2 separate regions of the Homo sapiens genome follow, and region 1 is linked to region 2. Evidence: fine-mapped expression QTL. Tissue or cell type: transverse colon. Region 2 holds a variant in brackets; the other region holds the start of a gene. All regions are shown on one strand. Distances are from middle to middle.

Region 1 (8,088 bases), 56 kb after region 2:
CCCAACCTGTGTGCGTGCCGAGTATTTGTTGAAGAAACAGTCAGTTGTCAGAGAATGGCCCTGTTCTGGATTGGCTGGTTGCTTCTGTGTGGTGCTGAACCTGCTCCTCTCTCCCCTGTATTTCCTGGGGACAGGTGGAGGCTCAGCCAGATTCGGGTTCAAGGTCTCTTCCTAGGCTGCGTCAGTCTGCATGCACGGGAGGTCTGCTTACTAGGATTGACCAGCAGGTTTAGGTGTTGTCAGCCTGATGTGTTGGTCTTTTATCTAACGGTTTTTGGGTTTCTGTGGTTTTTTGTTTCATTTGTGGGTCTTTTTTTTTTTTTTGAGATGGTCTTGCTTTGTCACCCAGGTTGGAGTGCAGTGATGCAATCAGGGCTCACTGCAGCCTCAACCTCCTGGGCTCGGGTGATCCTTCCACCTCAGCCTCCTGAGTAGCTGGAACTACAGGTTGTGTACCGCCATGCCCAGATAATTTTTGAATTTTTGTAGAGATGAGGTCTCACTAATGTTGTCCAGGCTGGGCTCAAGGGATCCTCCCGCCTCAGCCTTCCAAAGTACTGGGATTACAGGTGTGAGCCACTGCGTCCAGCCTATTTAATGGCTTTTGAATAGCCGTTGATAATTGCCTGGACCTACTACTTCCTTAAGGGTGCAAAATGGTGATTTTTTTGAATTATATCGTTCCCTCTGCATTTAGTAGCTGGAATCCTATAAAGGAATCTTCCTCATCGTCTGTTTGATTACCCTGAAATACTATTTTCACAGAAAAGAAGGGAAAATGCCTGTTATCACCTCTAACAGTTTTCAGAACAATGAGTTAGTGCCCTGGCAAGGGCCAGTGACAGGGCAGGAGGGGGTGGAGAGCGTGTTTCCTGGGCTGCCTGGTGAACTCTCACGTCTGTCAATTGCAGGCTTGCTTTTTCATGCCCAACTTGTCTATCTTTGCCCAGAGGCGGCCTCAGGTTGACCTCTGTAGTCCTTTGACACAAGCCTTGGGTCTTGGGCACCTTCCTTACTTACAGCTACCACGATGCTGCAGGCTCCAGCCCCTCCCTGGCATTTCCTGTTGCGGACCCGGCCCAACCATCTCCCCAGGGTGCACTCAGTCGGTGTGAATATGGTGTTTAGAGACCCCAGTCTGGTCACCAGGGGTGGGGCTTGCTCCTGGGATTTCGTTACTGCTAGGGCTTTGGAAGAGACAGAGCCAGGAAATAAGTTTTTTTTTTTTTTTTTTGCCAATTTTAAAAAAATAAAGTATGAGGCTGGGCACGGTGGCTCATGCCTGTAATCCCAGCACTTTGGGAGGCTGAGGCGGGCAGATCACTTGAGCTCAGGAGTTTGAGACCAGCCTGGCCAACATGGTGAAACCCAGTCTCTACTAAAAATACAAAAATCGGCTGGGTGTGATGGCGCACGCCTGTAATCCCAGCTACTTCAGAGGCTAAAGCAGGAGGATCCCTCGAACCCAGGAGTTCAAGACTGCAGTGAGCTATGATTGTGCCACTGCACTCTAGCCTGGGTGACAGAGACCCTGTCTCAAAAAAACAAACAAACAAAAAACCTCTGTGGACTCCGGGTGATAATGACATGTCAATGTGGATTCATCAGGTGTTAACAGCTGTACCCCCTGGTGGGGGATGTTGATAACGGGGGAGACTGGAGTGGGGCGAGGACATACGGGAAATCTCTGTAATCTTCCTCTAATTTTGCTGTGAACCTAAAGCTGCTCTAAAAATGTACATAGATATAAACTGGGGCCTTCCTTTCCCTCTGCCCTGCCCCAGCCCTCCCCCACCTCCTTCCTCTCCCTGCTGCCTCCCCTCTGCCCTCCCCTTTCCTCCTTAGCCACTGTAAATGACACTGCAGCAAAGGTCTGAGGCAAATGCCTTTGCCCTGGGGCGCCCCAGCCACCTGCAGGCCCCTTATTTCCTGTGGCCGAGCTCCTCCTCCCACCCTCCAGTCCTTTCCCCAGCCTCCCTCGCCCACTAGGCCTCCTGAATTGCTGGCACCGGCTGTGGTCGACAGACAGAGGGACAGACGTGGCTCTGCAGGTCCACTCGGTCCCTGGCACCGGCCGCAGGGGTGGCAGAACGGGAGTGTGGTTGGTGTGGGAAGCACAGGCCCCAGTGTCTCCTGGGGGACTGTTGGGTGGGAAGGCTCTGGCTGCCCTCACCCTGTTCCCATCACTGCAGAGGGCTGTGCGGTGGCTGGAGCTGCCACTGAGTGTCTCGGTGAGGGTGACCTCACACTGGCTGAGCTTAAAGGCCCCATCTGAAGACTTTGTTCGTGGTGTTCTTTCACTTCTCAGAGCCTTTCCTGGCTCCAGGATTAATACCTGTTCACAGAAAATACGAGTCGCCTCCTCCTCCACAACCTCACACGACCTTCTCCCTTCCCTCCCACTGGCCTCTTTCCCTCCCCTTCTGTCACTCTGCCTGGGCATGCCCCAGGGCCTCGGCTGGGCCCTTTGTTTCCACAGGGAAACCTACATGGTTGGGCTAGATGCCTCCGCACCCCCCCACCCACACCCCCTGAGCCTCTAGTCCTCCCTCCCAGGACACATCAGGCTGGATGGTGACACTTCCACACCCTTGAGTGGGACTGCCTTGTGCTGCTCTGGGATTCGCACCCAGCTTGGACTACCCGCTCCACGGGCCCCAGGAAAAGCTCGTACAGATAAGGTCAGCCACATGAGTGGAGGGCCTGCAGCATGCTGCCCTTTCTGTCCCAGAAGTCACGTGCTCGGTCCCCTCTGAAGCCCCTTTGGGGACCTAGGGGACAAGCAGGGCATGGAGACATGGAGACAAAGTATGCCCTTTTCTCTGACAGTGACACCAAGCCCTGTGAACAAACCAGAAGGCAGGGCACTGTGCACCCTGCCCGGCCCCACCATCCCCCTTACCACCCGCCACCTTGCCACCTGCCTCTGCTCCCAGGTAAGTGGTAACCTGCACAGGTGCACTGTGGGTTTGGGGAAAACTGGATCTCCCTGCACCTGAGGGGGTAGAGGGGAGGGAGTGCCTGAGAGCTCATGAACAAGCATGTGACCTTGGATCCAGCTCCATAAATACCCGAGGCCCAGGGGGAGGGCCACCCAGAGGCTGATGCTCACCATGGGGCGCCTGCAACTGGTTGTGTTGGGCCTCACCTGCTGCTGGGCAGTGGCGAGTGCCGCGAAGGTAAGAGCCCAGCAGAGGGGCAGGTCCTGCTGCTCTCTCGCTCAATCAGATCTGGAAACTTCGGGCCAGGCTGAGAAAGAGCCCAGCACAGCCCCGCAGCAGATCCCGGGCACTCACGCTCATTTCTATGGGGACAGGTGCCAGGTAGAACACAGGATGCCCAATTCCATTTGAATTTCAGATAAACTGCCAAGAACTGCTGTGTAAGTATGTCCCATGCAATATTTGAAACAAATTTCTATGGGCCGGGCGCAGTGGCTCACACCTGCAATCCCACCAGTTTGGGAGGCCGAGGTGGGTGGATCACTTGAGGTCAGGAGTTGGAGACCAGCCTGGCCAACATGGTGAAACCCCGTCTCTACTAAAAATACAAATATTAATCGGGCGTGGTGGTGGGTGCCTGTAATCCCAGCTACTCGGGAGGCTGAGGCAGGAGAACCGCTTGAAGCTGGGAGGTGGAGATTGCGGTGAGCTGAGATCACGCTACTGCACTCCAGCCTGGGTGACAGGGCGAGACTCTGTCTCAAAAAATAGAAAAAGAAAAAAATGAAACATACTAAAAAACAATTCACTGTTTACCTGAAATTCAAATGTAACTGGGCCTCTTGAATTTACATTTGCTAATCCTGGTGATTCCACCTCTCTGTTGTTCCCATTTTACAGAAGGGGAAACGGGCCCAGGGGCAGGGAGTGTGGAGAGCAGGCAGACGGGTGGAGAGAAGCAGGCAGGCAGTTTGCCCAGCATGGCACAGCTGCTGCCTCCTATTCCTGTGCAGGAAGCTGAAAGCCGAGCTACTCCACACCCGGGTCCGGGTCCCTCCAGAAAGAGAGCCGGCAGGCAGGAGCTCTCTCGAGGCATCCATAAATTCTACCCTCTCTGCCTGTGAAGGAGAAGCCACAGAAACCCCAAGCCCCACAGGAAGCCGGTGTCGGTGCCCGGCCCAGTCCCTGCCCCCAGCAGGAGTCACACAGGGGACCCCAGATCCCAACCACGCTGTTCTGCCGCCTGCGGTGTCTCAGGCCCTGGGGACTCCTGTCTCCACCTCTGCTGCCTGCTCTCCACACTCCCTGGCCCTGGGACCGGGAGGTTTGGGCAGTGGTCCTGGGCTCCTGACTCAAAGGAGAGGTCACCTTCTTCTTGGGCGAGCTCTTCTTGGGGTGCTGAGAGGCCTTCGGCAGGTCATCACGACCCCTCCCCATTTCCCCACCCTGAGGCCCTCTGGCCAGTCTCAATTGCACAGGGATCACGCCACTGGCACAAGGAGACACAGATGCCTCGCAGGGGATGCCCACGATGCCTGCATGTGTTGCTTCTGGTTCCTTTCCTCCAGTTCCAACCGCCGCACTCTCCCACACCAGTGTGACAGGGGGCCCATCACCCTAGACTTCAGAGGGCTGCTGGGACCCTGGCTGGGCCTGGGGGTGTAGGGCCACCCTGCCCTTCCCCACCTGGAACCTGGCACAGGTGACAGCCAGCAAGCAATGACCTGGTCCCACCATGCACCACGGGAAGAGGGAGCTGCTGCCCAAGATGGACAGGAGGTGGCACTGGGGCAGACAGCTGCTTCTCAACAGGGTGACTTCAAGCCCAAAAGCTGCCCAGCCTCAGTTCCGTCAGGGACAGAGGGTGGATGAGCACCAACCTCCAGGCCCCTCGTGGGGGTGGACAGCTTGGTGCACAGAGGCCATTTTCATGGCACAGGGAAGCGTGGCGGGGGTGGGAGGTGTGGTCCCTAGGGGGTTCTTTACCAGCAGGGGGCTCAGGAACTGTGGGGACTTGGGCATGGGGCCATCGACTTTGTGCCCAGCCAGCTAGGCCCTGTGCAGGGAGATGGGAGGAGGGAAAAGCAGGCCCCACCCCTCAGAAAGGAGGAAGGTTGGTGTGAAACATCCCGGGTACACTGAGCATTGGGTACACTCCTCCCGGGAGCTGGACAGGCCTCCCATGTGATGGCAAACAGGCCGACAGGAGACACGGCTGTTGCTCGTCTTCCACATGGGGAAACTGAGGATCGGAGTCAAAGCTGGGCGGCCATAGCCAGAACCCAAACCTCCATCCCACCTCTTGGCCGGCTTCCCTAGTGGGAACACTGGTTGAACCAGTTTCCTCTAAGATTCTGGGAGCAGGACACCCCCAGGGATAAGGAGAGGAACAGGAATCCTAAAGCCCTGAGCATTGCAGGGCAGGGGGTGCTGCCTGGGTCTCCTGTGCAGAGCTGTCCTGCTTTGAAGCTGTCTTTGCCTCTGGGCACGCGGAGTCGGCTTGCCTTGCCCCCTCCGGATTCAGGCCGATGGGGCTTGAGCCCCCCTGACCCTGCCCGTGTCTCCCTCGCAGCTGGGCGCCGTGTACACAGAAGGTGGGTTCGTGGAAGGCGTCAATAAGAAGCTCGGCCTCCTGGGTGACTCTGTGGACATCTTCAAGGGCATCCCCTTCGCAGCTCCCACCAAGGCCCTGGAAAATCCTCAGCCACATCCTGGCTGGCAAGGTGGGAGTGGGTGGTGCCGGACTGGCCCTGCGGCGGGGCGGGTGAGGGCGGCTGCCTTCCTCATGCCAACTCCTGCCACCTGCAGGGACCCTGAAGGCCAAGAACTTCAAGAAGAGATGCCTGCAGGCCACCATCACCCAGGACAGCACCTACGGGGATGAAGACTGCCTGTACCTCAACATTTGGGTGCCCCAGGGCAGGAAGCAAGGTCTGCCTCCCCTCTACTCCCCAAGGGACCCTCCCATGCAGCCACTGCCCCGGGTCTACTCCTGGCTTGAGTCTGGGGGCTGCAAAGCTGAACTTCCATGAAATCCCACAGAGGCGGGGAGGGGAGCGCCCACTGCCGTTGCCCAGCCTGGGGCAGGGCAGCGCCTTGGAGCACCTCCCTGTCTTGGCCCCAGGCACCTGCTGCACAGGGACAGGGGACCGGCTGGAGACAGGGCCAGGCGGGGCGTCTGGGGTCACCAGCCGCTCCCCCATCTCAGTCTCCCGGGACCTGCCCGTTATGATCTGGATCTATGGAGGCGCCTTCCTCATGGGGTCCGGCCATGGGGCCAACTTCCTCAACAACTACCTGTATGACGGCGAGGAGATCGCCACACGCGGAAACGTCATCGTGGTCACCTTCAACTACCGTGTCGGCCCCCTTGGGTTCCTCAGCACTGGGGACGCCAATCTGCCAGGTGCGTGGGTGCCTTCGGCCCTGAGGTGGGGCGACCAGCATGCTGAGCCCAGCAGGGAGATTTTCCTCAGCACCCCTCACCCCAAACAACCAGTGGCGGTTCACAGAAAGACCCGGAAGCTGGAGTAGAATCATGAGATGCAGGAGGCCCTTGGTAGCTGTAGTAAAATAAAAGATGCTGCAGAGGCCGGGAGAGATGGCTCACGCCTGTAATCCCAGCACTTTAGGAGGCCCACACAGGTGGGTCACTTGAGCGCAGAAGTTCAAGACCAGCCTGAAAATCACTGGGAGACCCCCATCTCTACACAAAAATTAAAAATTAGCTGGGGACTGGGCGCGGCGGCTCACCCCTGTAATCCCAGCACGTTGGGAGCCCAAGGTGGGTAGATCACCTGAGGTCAGGAGTTTGAGACCAGCCTGACTAAAATGGAGAAACCTCTTCTCTACTAAAAATACAAAATTAGCCAGGCGTGGTGGCGCTTGCCTGTAATCCCAGCTACTCGGGAGGCTGAGGCAGGAGAATCGCTTGAACTCAGGAGGCGGAGGTTGCGGTGAGCCGAGATCATGCCACTGCACTCCAGCCTGGAGAACAAGAGTAAAACTCTGTCTCAAAAAAAAAAAAAAAAAAAAAAATAGCCAGGCGTGGTATCTCATGCCTCTGTCCTCAGCTACCTGGGAGGCAGAGGTGGAAGGATCGCTTGAGCCCAGGGGTTCAAAGCTGCAGTGAGCCGTGGTCGTGCCACTGCACTCCAGCCTGGGCGACAGAGTGAGGCCCCATCTCAAAAATAAGAGGCTGTGGGACAGACAGACAGGCAGACAGGCTGAGGCTCAGAGAGAAACCAGGAGAGCAGAGCTGAGTGAGAGACAGAGAACAATACCTTGAGGCAGAGACAGCTGTGGACACAGAAGTGGCAGGACACAGACAGGAGGGACTGGGGCAGGGGCAGGAGAGGTGCATGGGCCTGACCATCCTGCCCCCGACAAACACCACCCCCTCCAGCACCACACCAACCCAACCTCCTGGGGACCCACCCCATACAGCACCGCACCCGACTCAGCCTCCTGGGGACCCACCCACTCCAGCAACCAACGTGACCTAGTCTCCTGGGGACCCACCCCCTCCAGCACCCTACCCGACCCAGCTTCTTAGGGACCCACCATTTGCCAACTGGGGCTCTGCCATGGCCCCAACTCTGTTGAGGGCATTTCCACCCCACCTATGCTGATCTCCCCTCCTGGAGGCCAGGCCTGGGCCACTGGTCTCTAGCACCCCCTCCCCTGCCCTGCCCCCAGGTAACTATGGCCTTCGGGATCAGCACATGGCCATTGCTTGGGTGAAGAGGAATATCGCGGCCTTCGGGGGGGACCCCAACAACATCACGCTCTTCGGGGAGTCTGCTGGAGGTGCCAGCGTCTCTCTGCAGGTCTCGGGATCCCTGTGGGGAGGGCCTGCCCCACAGGTTGAGAGGAAGCTCAAACGGGAAGGGGAGGGTGGGAGGAGGAGCGTGGAGCTGGGGCTGTGGTGCTGGGGTGTCCTTGTCCCAGCGTGGGGTGGGCAGAGTGGGGAGCGGCCTTGGTGACGGGATTTCTGGGTCCCGTAGACCCTCTCCCCCTACAACAAGGGCCTCATCCGGCGAGCCATCAGCCAGAGCGGCGTGGCCCTGAGTCCCTGGGTCATCCAGAAAAACCCACTCTTCTGGGCCAAAAAGGTAAACGGAGGAGGGCAGGGCTGGGCGGGGTG
Region 2 (8,102 bases):
AGGGAGCGAAGCGACCACCGTGGGCAGCTCTTCCTGCCCCAGGAGCCCCTTTTGGGAGCAGCAAGGGATGTGGCCACTGACTCAGGGGTGTCAATCACCCATCTTCCCCGGAGCTGCGGTTGCCCACCGGACTCTGAGGGGAATCAGAAGTCAGTCGCGTAGAGAGCATCCTGGGGAAGCCTCAGGCACCGTCCGGCCTGGCCTTTCTGCTCCAAGCCCTCCCCCTGCGCCCAGCACGACCCCATCTCTGTACACTACCATGAGATCACTGGTGGACAGCTGTCTCTACTGTGTGGCCAGCCCCAGCAGAGGCTGAGGGTCGGGCACCTGGAGGTCAGGCTGGGGTCTACCACTCCCAGCAGCTGGGTCCTCTCTGCAACAGAGGGCATTCCTGGGGGCCAGCCCAGCTCCTCTGGGGATTTCTTCCCACTTTGTAGACCCCAGACTTAGTGCCAATAGAAGACCACTTCTCGCAGGGTACAAAGTCTGTTCAACAAGTATTTGCTGGGCGTCCACTCTGGGCAGGGCCTTGGCAAGACCCAGGAGAGGAGACGCTGTGGGGGGTCTGGAGGCCCAAGGGGGTTACTAAGCCCAGCCCTGGGGTTAAGGGAAGTCTAATGAGGGAAGTCGACATTTGCAAGACAAAAAGAATTTGATCTGTTGGAAGTGCAGAGGGCTGCCCCAAGCCAAGAAAACAGCGGGGCACAAAGCCCTGGGGGAGACAAGAGGCCTCCCCTGCCCCCAGCTCTTGCCCAACCTGTTAGGGAGCAGTGCTCTAGCCAGCGCCTTCTCAGGGCTTCAGGAGGCCAGTGTGCAAAGCAAGGGTGACCTAGTGGGGTCCTGGGGGCTATCCTGTTGGGGCTTGGCAGCCAGCCACATGCATCTTTGGTCATTGCCACGGTCACGGTCCCTGCCTTCCCATCCCTGCTGGCTCGTGGGATGTCTACGGGGCTTGCCTGGCACCCCCGGCCCTCCTCTGCACTCCTCAGGAAGGAAGGTTCAGGATCCCTGAGCTCAGCCTCCCCAAGGCAGCTCTTTAGAAGCCTACAATCTTAGCTGGAAACCGTCACGGTTAAGGGTTTCCTCCCGGTGGCTCCCCAGCGCCCCTCAGCCCGGCCTGAGACTTATCACTGCCCCCCAGCTGGTGCCCCCCTCCTCCTCCAACCACCTCACCCTGGGTGATTCAGCAAATCTTCCCTCCATGAGGGGAAAAACAAGAGTGAAAAATCACAATGTCAGATTACAAAGCCCTAACTGTAGGGCAGGCCCCTGGCAGGGAGATAAGGGTCTCATTCCCCACCCTCAAAGCCTCTCTGGCAGATAAACCTCCTAGAGCAGCATGGGCTGCACTGCTGCAGGTGTGGGGTGGGGAGGCCTGGCCTCACGGAAGTCTGGTCAGGGGACACAGGGCCCTGCCAGGAGCTGAGGGCCCACAGCTCGGCCACTGTGCAGAGCTGGCCAAAGAGGAAGTGCCACGGCCAGCATTGATGTTGCCATCCCAACAACTGCCTTGGAGGGAAAAAGAGAAGGGCAGGGCCTTCTGAGAAAGTTCAATGACAGGATGCCCCACAAATGCCCTTCACCCTGGGGTGTCCCTCTGCCAGCTCAGCCTGCAAACCATGATCCCTTGTACGACTGCAGCCCAGCTGTGTTGCAGAAGTAAAGGTGTCTGCCCCCATGAAGCCAGCCCAGAGGAGGGAGGAGCTGGGATGCCATTCCTGGGAGGGGGGCCTCCTCTGGGGAGGCCTGGGTGGACTTGAAGGCAGCTCAGCCTCATCTGCCCTAGAGACCTTGCCAGGAGAAATCCTGGGTCTCCAAGCCAGGAGATCTGCTAGGCTGGGAGACCTGCCCTGGGAGCCACTTGTCAGCAGGGGACCCTGTGATTGTGGGGATGAGGCTGGGGGTAGGAAGGGGCGGTCACTAGGCTTCCTCTGCTGGTGGAGGACAATGAAATGATGGCTTTGAAGCTGAACTCTGTGCTGGGCCCTGGTGCTCTAAGCAAGTCATTTCTCTACTTTTTAGCCCCGTATGCTGTCTGTAAAGTGAGATAAGAAAACCCACCCGCAGGGCTGTCCTGGGGAGTCCAGGTGCATGCCAAGCAGGAGTGGCACAGGTCCTGGTCTCTGTTTCCCAGGGTTGGGGACCAGCATCTGGCTGGAATGGGGGTGGCTTTGGGATAAGTGCCTGCATAGCTCTTGGTATCCAGGGCCAAGGGTCCAGCTGCCCAGCATTCTAAAGACTCTCCATTGTCTGGGGAAGCTCTCTGAGGTCATTTCCCACAACACCATGGGATGGCTGCGGTGGGCTAGGGAAAGGAGGGTGTGCAGCAGGCACATAAACTTTCTAGAGTAGTGTGGGTTGCACCACTGCAGGCATGAGGTGGGGCGCCCCGGTGTCACAAAAGTCCGATCAGGGGACATATGGTCCTGCCAGGAGCTAAGGGCCCAGAGCTTGGCCACCGTGCAGAGAGCTGGGCGAAGAGGAAGCGCCGCAGCCAGTGGACTTGGTTCCACTCAGCTGCAAAAGGAAGAGAGTTGGTCAAGACGACGTCTGCAGTCCCTTCACTATAAAATTTTGCAAAATACAAACTGCTCAGTGGGTGTGTAGTTGGCCGAAGGTACTCCACCAAAGAGGTACCAAAAGCTGGTGGGCTTCAAAGCAGCATCGTCCCCAGCAGCCAAAAAGTGGGCACCCCAAGTGTCCATCCACAGATGATGGGTAAACAAAACGGGGCCTGTCCATGCTAGGAAATATGACTTGGCCATCAAAGGGAATGGAGCTCTGACACATGCCACACGTGGACCTTGAGGACATCATGCTGAGTGAAACAGGCCAGTCACAAAAGCACAAGCACAGGATGATTCCACTTATATGAGGTCCCTAGAGTAGTCAAATTCATCGAAAGTAGAATGGTGGCTGGCAGGATCTGGGGGAGGGGAGTGGGGAGTTAGTGTCTAATGGGTACAGAGCTTCAGTTTGGGAAAAGTTCTGGTGTTGGCTGGTGGTGATGATTGCACAACAATGTGAATGTACCCAATGCCACTGAACTGTACACTTAGAAATAGTTAAGAAGGTAAAATTTATTAAGTATATTTTAGTAACCCCTCCCCCCGCCCCCGCCAAAAAAAAAAAGCCCATGTGCACAGTGGTCTCTGCTGAATGAAGACTTGAAAACCAGAGCCCAGCCCTAAACAGCTCATGCATAGTCCAGGCAGAGAAACAGAGCAGGTAATGCCCCCTCAACTGATGGCAGACGGGCCAGGGAGCCCTGCTCTGGGCTGGAGCAGGGAGGCACCTTCAGGGTTGTGGGAGATCTGCAGGGAGAGCCACTTCTCCCTAGGGGTGGGTGTCTGAGCAACAGCACCAGAATCCCAGCGACATTCTCTCCTTCCTCCTTCCAGACTGGCTTTGCCTGCCTCTGAGGCTCTGGGAATGCTGTTCCCTCCACTTGGAAGGCAGTTTCCTCACTTCACCAATTCTTTATCTTCGTCATCCCAAACCCAACCCACATGCACCCCACAAGAAAACCTCCCCTTGCCAGTTATAGACTCTCAAATCCCCCAGAAATTCTGCCCTCTGATGTTGATCATAATTGTCATGAAATAGCTATTTGTGTCATTGTGTGACACGTTCTATGAAATTCTCCATTGCTTCCCCAGTACTCATTAAGGAAATGCTTTTTGTCAGATGGACAGATGGATGGTTGGGTGAGTGGATGGATGGATGAATGATGGATGGATGGATGGTTGGATGGATGGATGGAAGCATGGATAGATGGATGGATGGGTGGATGGATGGATGGTGGATGTGTGGATGGATGGATGGATGAACAGATGGGTGGATGGATGGATGGATGGATGGATGGATGGTTGGATGGATGGATGGATGGATGGTGGATGTGTGGATGGATGAATGGATGAACAGATGGGTGGATGGATGGATGGATGGATGCATGGATGGATGGATGGATGGATGGACGGATGGACGGATGGATGGACAGATGGATGGATGGATGGATGGGTGGGTGGATGGATGATAGGTGGATGGATGGATGGATGGATGGATGGTGGTTGGGTGGATGGATGGTGGATGGGTGGATGGATGGACAATGGGTGGATGGATAGGCAAGCAAAC[T/G]GAAGGGTCTACCCACCCAAAGGGGCCAATGCATGGAGTGCCTAGGCCTGGATAACAGGGTGCAAGTATACGTGTGAATGGGTGCTTTCGAGTCTTTTGCCTAGAACCATGAATTACAGTTCAGGCCCACTGTCAGTCCTACCTGACACTGTGTGGACTGTGGACCTGTCTGAGAACGGCTTCCTGGATCTAGAGGTTTGGCTGAAGGACAGCACTCACCATCTCCTGGGAGGATGAGCTCTCAATCTGATCTGATCTGATTGGCTTGGAGGACCCATCCCAGATGGCACCATCCAACTGTACCTAGCACTTGCTGTGACCTGGGCTGGCACTAGCTGAGCACTTCCCATAGAATAGCAGGAGCTACTTTTCCCTGTTTTACAGACATGGAAACTGAGGCACGCATTTGCCCAAGGTTTGACTGAACTTTAAAGGACCTCTTCCCCAAGGCTTTTTAATCCCAAGGTAAACCCTTCCCAAGGAATCAAGGGGTCAGGGATGGACCTGTGGCCCACTCTCCTCTACAGATCCCCTAAAACAGACAGCAAGTTCCCAGTGTGGTGCTCTGGGCCGGCGTGGAGGGGTCAGGAAGGGATGAGCCTGGAGTAGGGAAGCACTTTGGAGAATGCCAGACCCGGGGCCCTTCCCTCCCTCTCCACCTCCCTCCTCCTGTTCCTTTCCTCCTCTTCCCTCACTCTTCCTCCCCACCTCTTCCCTCCCCTCCTCTCTCTCCCTCCTCTTCTCCCCATCTCCCTTTCCTTCTCCTCCTCCCTATCTCCCTTTCCTTCTCCTCCTCCCTCTCCCCTTTCCCCACTCTTCCTAGCCACAGGTGGGGTTGTGGCCCTGGCTGAAACTCTTGAATGACTTAGTGATTCTTTCCTTCCAGCATCTTGAGTTCTTCCTGGACCTAGGGGTGGGGGGGCACTGCCAGTGGCCAGGGGAGGGGACTGCGGGGCACGCATGGGACTCCCTGGCTCGGTCCTCTGTTCTCTCCTCCATTTATGGGTTCGCTCACTCAGCAGCATTGATTTCATGCCAGGCGCTGGGGAAGCGGGGTCCAAAGAGACACCCCCGACCCTGCTCAGGGATGGGGGCAGTAGGTGTGCTGCACGGAGGGGCCTCTTCAAGTGGGGGCAGAAACCCCTTCCCAGAGGTCACCCAGAACCAAAAGGGGAGCAGGAAGGAAAGGCATGGAGGTCCTGGGGAGGCCCTGGCATCGCAGGGCCAGGAATTTGGGGGTGGGGCAAAGTGGGAGTGGTTAGGAGAAGACAGGGGTGGGAGCAGCGGGACCCACTCCCACAGTCTCTGGTAAAGCTTTGGGTCTCTGCCCCAGAGCAGTGGGATCGACTTGCATTTTCGGGGGAGAAGCATCCCTGGTGTCCTGGTGGCCAGGGAAGTCAGGAGCCCTGCAAGGTGACTGGAGCCCTACAACTCAGGGGGCAGGGGTTGCAAAGACCAGCCAGGCAGCCCCCTCAAGATGGAACCGCTCACGGGTCTAGGGAACCAAGGTGGGCCACCGCTGGAGGGTGGCCTGAGTCCTCTGAGGCCCCTGTGGTCCCAACACAGGCAGGTCTCCTGGGGGGAGAGACAGAAATGGTTGTGGCTCCAATAGGGAACAATGTAGTAATGTCTAACTAAATCACAGAGGCACACACCCTTTGGCCCAACAATACCTTACAGATGCCTAGCCCATGTGTACACACTACAGTGATTCACTACAAGCATTTGTTTTTGGGAAAGGTTGGAAACAACCTAAGTACCCATTAAAGAGGGTTGCGTAAATAAATCATGGTCCAGCCACACAGGGGAATACTGTCCATCTGTTCAAAGAAATGAGGAAGCACTTTCTGAATTGACAGAGAGTAATTTCCATGATATATTGCCAAGTGAAAAAAGGAAGGTAGGAAGGGAATGTATACCAAGGCACCATTGGTGGTCAACGAATTGATAGTTGGCTGTAATAGATGAAGGAGTCATATTATAATCTCTGGGGAAGCCAGTAAAAGCATGTGCAACTATTTATTACAGGGGAAGTTGAATAAGAAAACCCATTTGTGAGTTAGTTGTTTGCTTTTTAAAAAGGGGATGGAGAATATATATATATATATATAATTTTGTTTATAACATTGTAGATTGTCTCCAGAGAGATAAACAAGAAACCGTTGACATTGATCACCTCCAGAGAAAAGGTGATCTCAGTGTCTGGGGGAAAGGAGTGGGAGGGAGACTTTTCACTGAGTGCCTTTTTGTGTCCTTTGAATTTTGAAACACATGCATATAGTTACCCATCCTCTTAATAGAGAAGTGTAAGTGGATGTGGGAGATGCCTTAGAAGGCTGTTCCCAGTGGCGAAGTGGAGGCTGTTCCCAGTGGTGTGAGTTGAACCAGGGTGATGGATGGATGGGTGGAGAAGATGGATTTCTGATGAATTTAAGAGATAGAGTGGACTGATGTGGCAGCAGATGGATGAGGGGCAAGTGGGGAATCCGGGATGACACCCACGTTTCCGGTGCTGCCATTCCTGAGAAAGAGAATCCTGCAGGAGGGAGTCATGGGAAGAGATCTGGGAAGATACAGGGTGAGTTCAGTTTAAGCATCATTTGTTTTTTTTGTCTCCCCCTTTGACTGTCCAGGGTTCTCCCATCTCCCCTGTGAATAAATTTCCCCATGTGGGTGTGGTCTTAGAGAACGGACAGTTCCCTGTGTGGCCCCTGCCTGTTGGAGTAAGTCCTGGGCTTAGATGCTTCCTTGGTCACCCTCTAGCAGGTAGTCCCATAACCTAAGCCCTACCCATTCTTGTCCATTCTAGGAGTTTTGATGTTCAATAGGTGATGCAAAGAACCCACTCACCCTCCAGAGCCCCCCAGGTCCCCTGTCTGCCCCATTGGTGAGGTGACTCACTAAAAAGGAACCTGGGAATTCTTTGGGGGTGATTGAAATATTCTGTGTCATGATTGACATGGTGACTACATTTATATAGTTGTAAAGTCATCAAACTATATACTTAAACTGGGTGTATTTTATTGCATATAAATTATACCTCAATAAAGCTGATTTAAAAGTATAACACATGCTGGGTGTGGTAGCTCACACCTGTAATCTCAGCACTTTGGGAAGCCAAGGTTGTAGGATCACTGGAGGCCAGAAGTTCAAGACCAGCCTGGGCAACATAGTGAGACCCCATCTCTACAAAAAATAAAAAAAAATAAAATGGCCAAGTGTGGTGACACGTACCTGTAGTCTCAGCTACTCGGGAAGCTGAGGTGGGAGGTCGAAGGCTCAAGGCTTGAGACCAGGAGGTCGAGGCTGCAGTGAGTGCTACTGCACTCCAGCCCAGGTGACAGAGCAAGACCTTGTCTCAAAAAAAAAAAAAAAAAGAAAGGAAAAAGTAATAATAAATACACACATACATGTATGACGTGATAACAACAGAACAAAAGGCAAGAGGCAAAGAAGCATTCAAATGTGTCTTTACATTGTTATGGAAGTAGTAGAAGTACTAATTTGTATTTGACTTTACCAGATCAAGGATTCATATTGTAATCCCCAGGGTAACCAGTAAAAGTTTATACAACTATTTATTAGAGGAAAAATAAAATAACAAAATATAATTAGTATTAAAGAAGGAAAAGGAAGGAAAACCATATAGAACAGATAGAACAAATAGAAAACAGTAATGTGAAAGCTTTAAACACAAATATATTAGTATTACATTAAATATAAAAAGATTAAATATTCCAGCTAAAAGACACAGGATCTTAGAAAAGAGAAACAACTACATGCTGCCTATAAGAGATAGACTTAAAATATAAGAATACAGTGGCTGGGTGTGGTGGCTCACACCTGTAATCCCAGCACTTTGGGAGGCCAAGGAGGGTGGATCACCTGAGGTCAGGAGTTTGACACCAGCCTGGCCAACATGGTGAAACCTCATCTCTACTAAAAATACAACCATTAGCCAGGCGTGG

What was found. PIP is the estimated chance that this variant, and not a neighbour inherited with it, causes the effect.
Region 1: it holds the start of CEL, and the variant in region 2 is fine-mapped to the expression of CEL in transverse colon (CEDAR, PIP 0.95).

What each region holds. Positions count from the first base shown.
Region 1 is chr9:133,058,890-133,066,977 of GRCh38, forward strand. It overlaps CEL (carboxyl ester lipase), which reads left to right and starts at 3,092. Exons shown (of 11, transcript NM_001807.6): 1 at 3,092-3,179; 2 at 5,515-5,665; 3 at 5,751-5,873; 4 at 6,151-6,348; 5 at 7,641-7,771; 6 at 7,949-8,056. The coding sequence starts at 3,114. It overlaps LOC124902325, which reads right to left and starts at 2,443. Exons shown (of 2, transcript XM_047424377.1): 1 at 1,860-2,443. The coding sequence starts at 2,443. RefSeq lists enhancers at 1,303-2,054, 2,055-2,807.
Region 2 is chr9:133,003,123-133,011,224 of GRCh38, forward strand. No RefSeq gene overlaps it. Among named protein-coding and RNA genes, the nearest start is that of SNORD141A, 13 kb to the right of the region's middle. RefSeq lists enhancers at 104-977, 1,061-1,205, 1,080-1,374, 1,852-2,723 and cis regulatory regions at 705-1,656, 1,124-1,141. The variant T/G (reference allele first, on the strand shown) is at 4,135.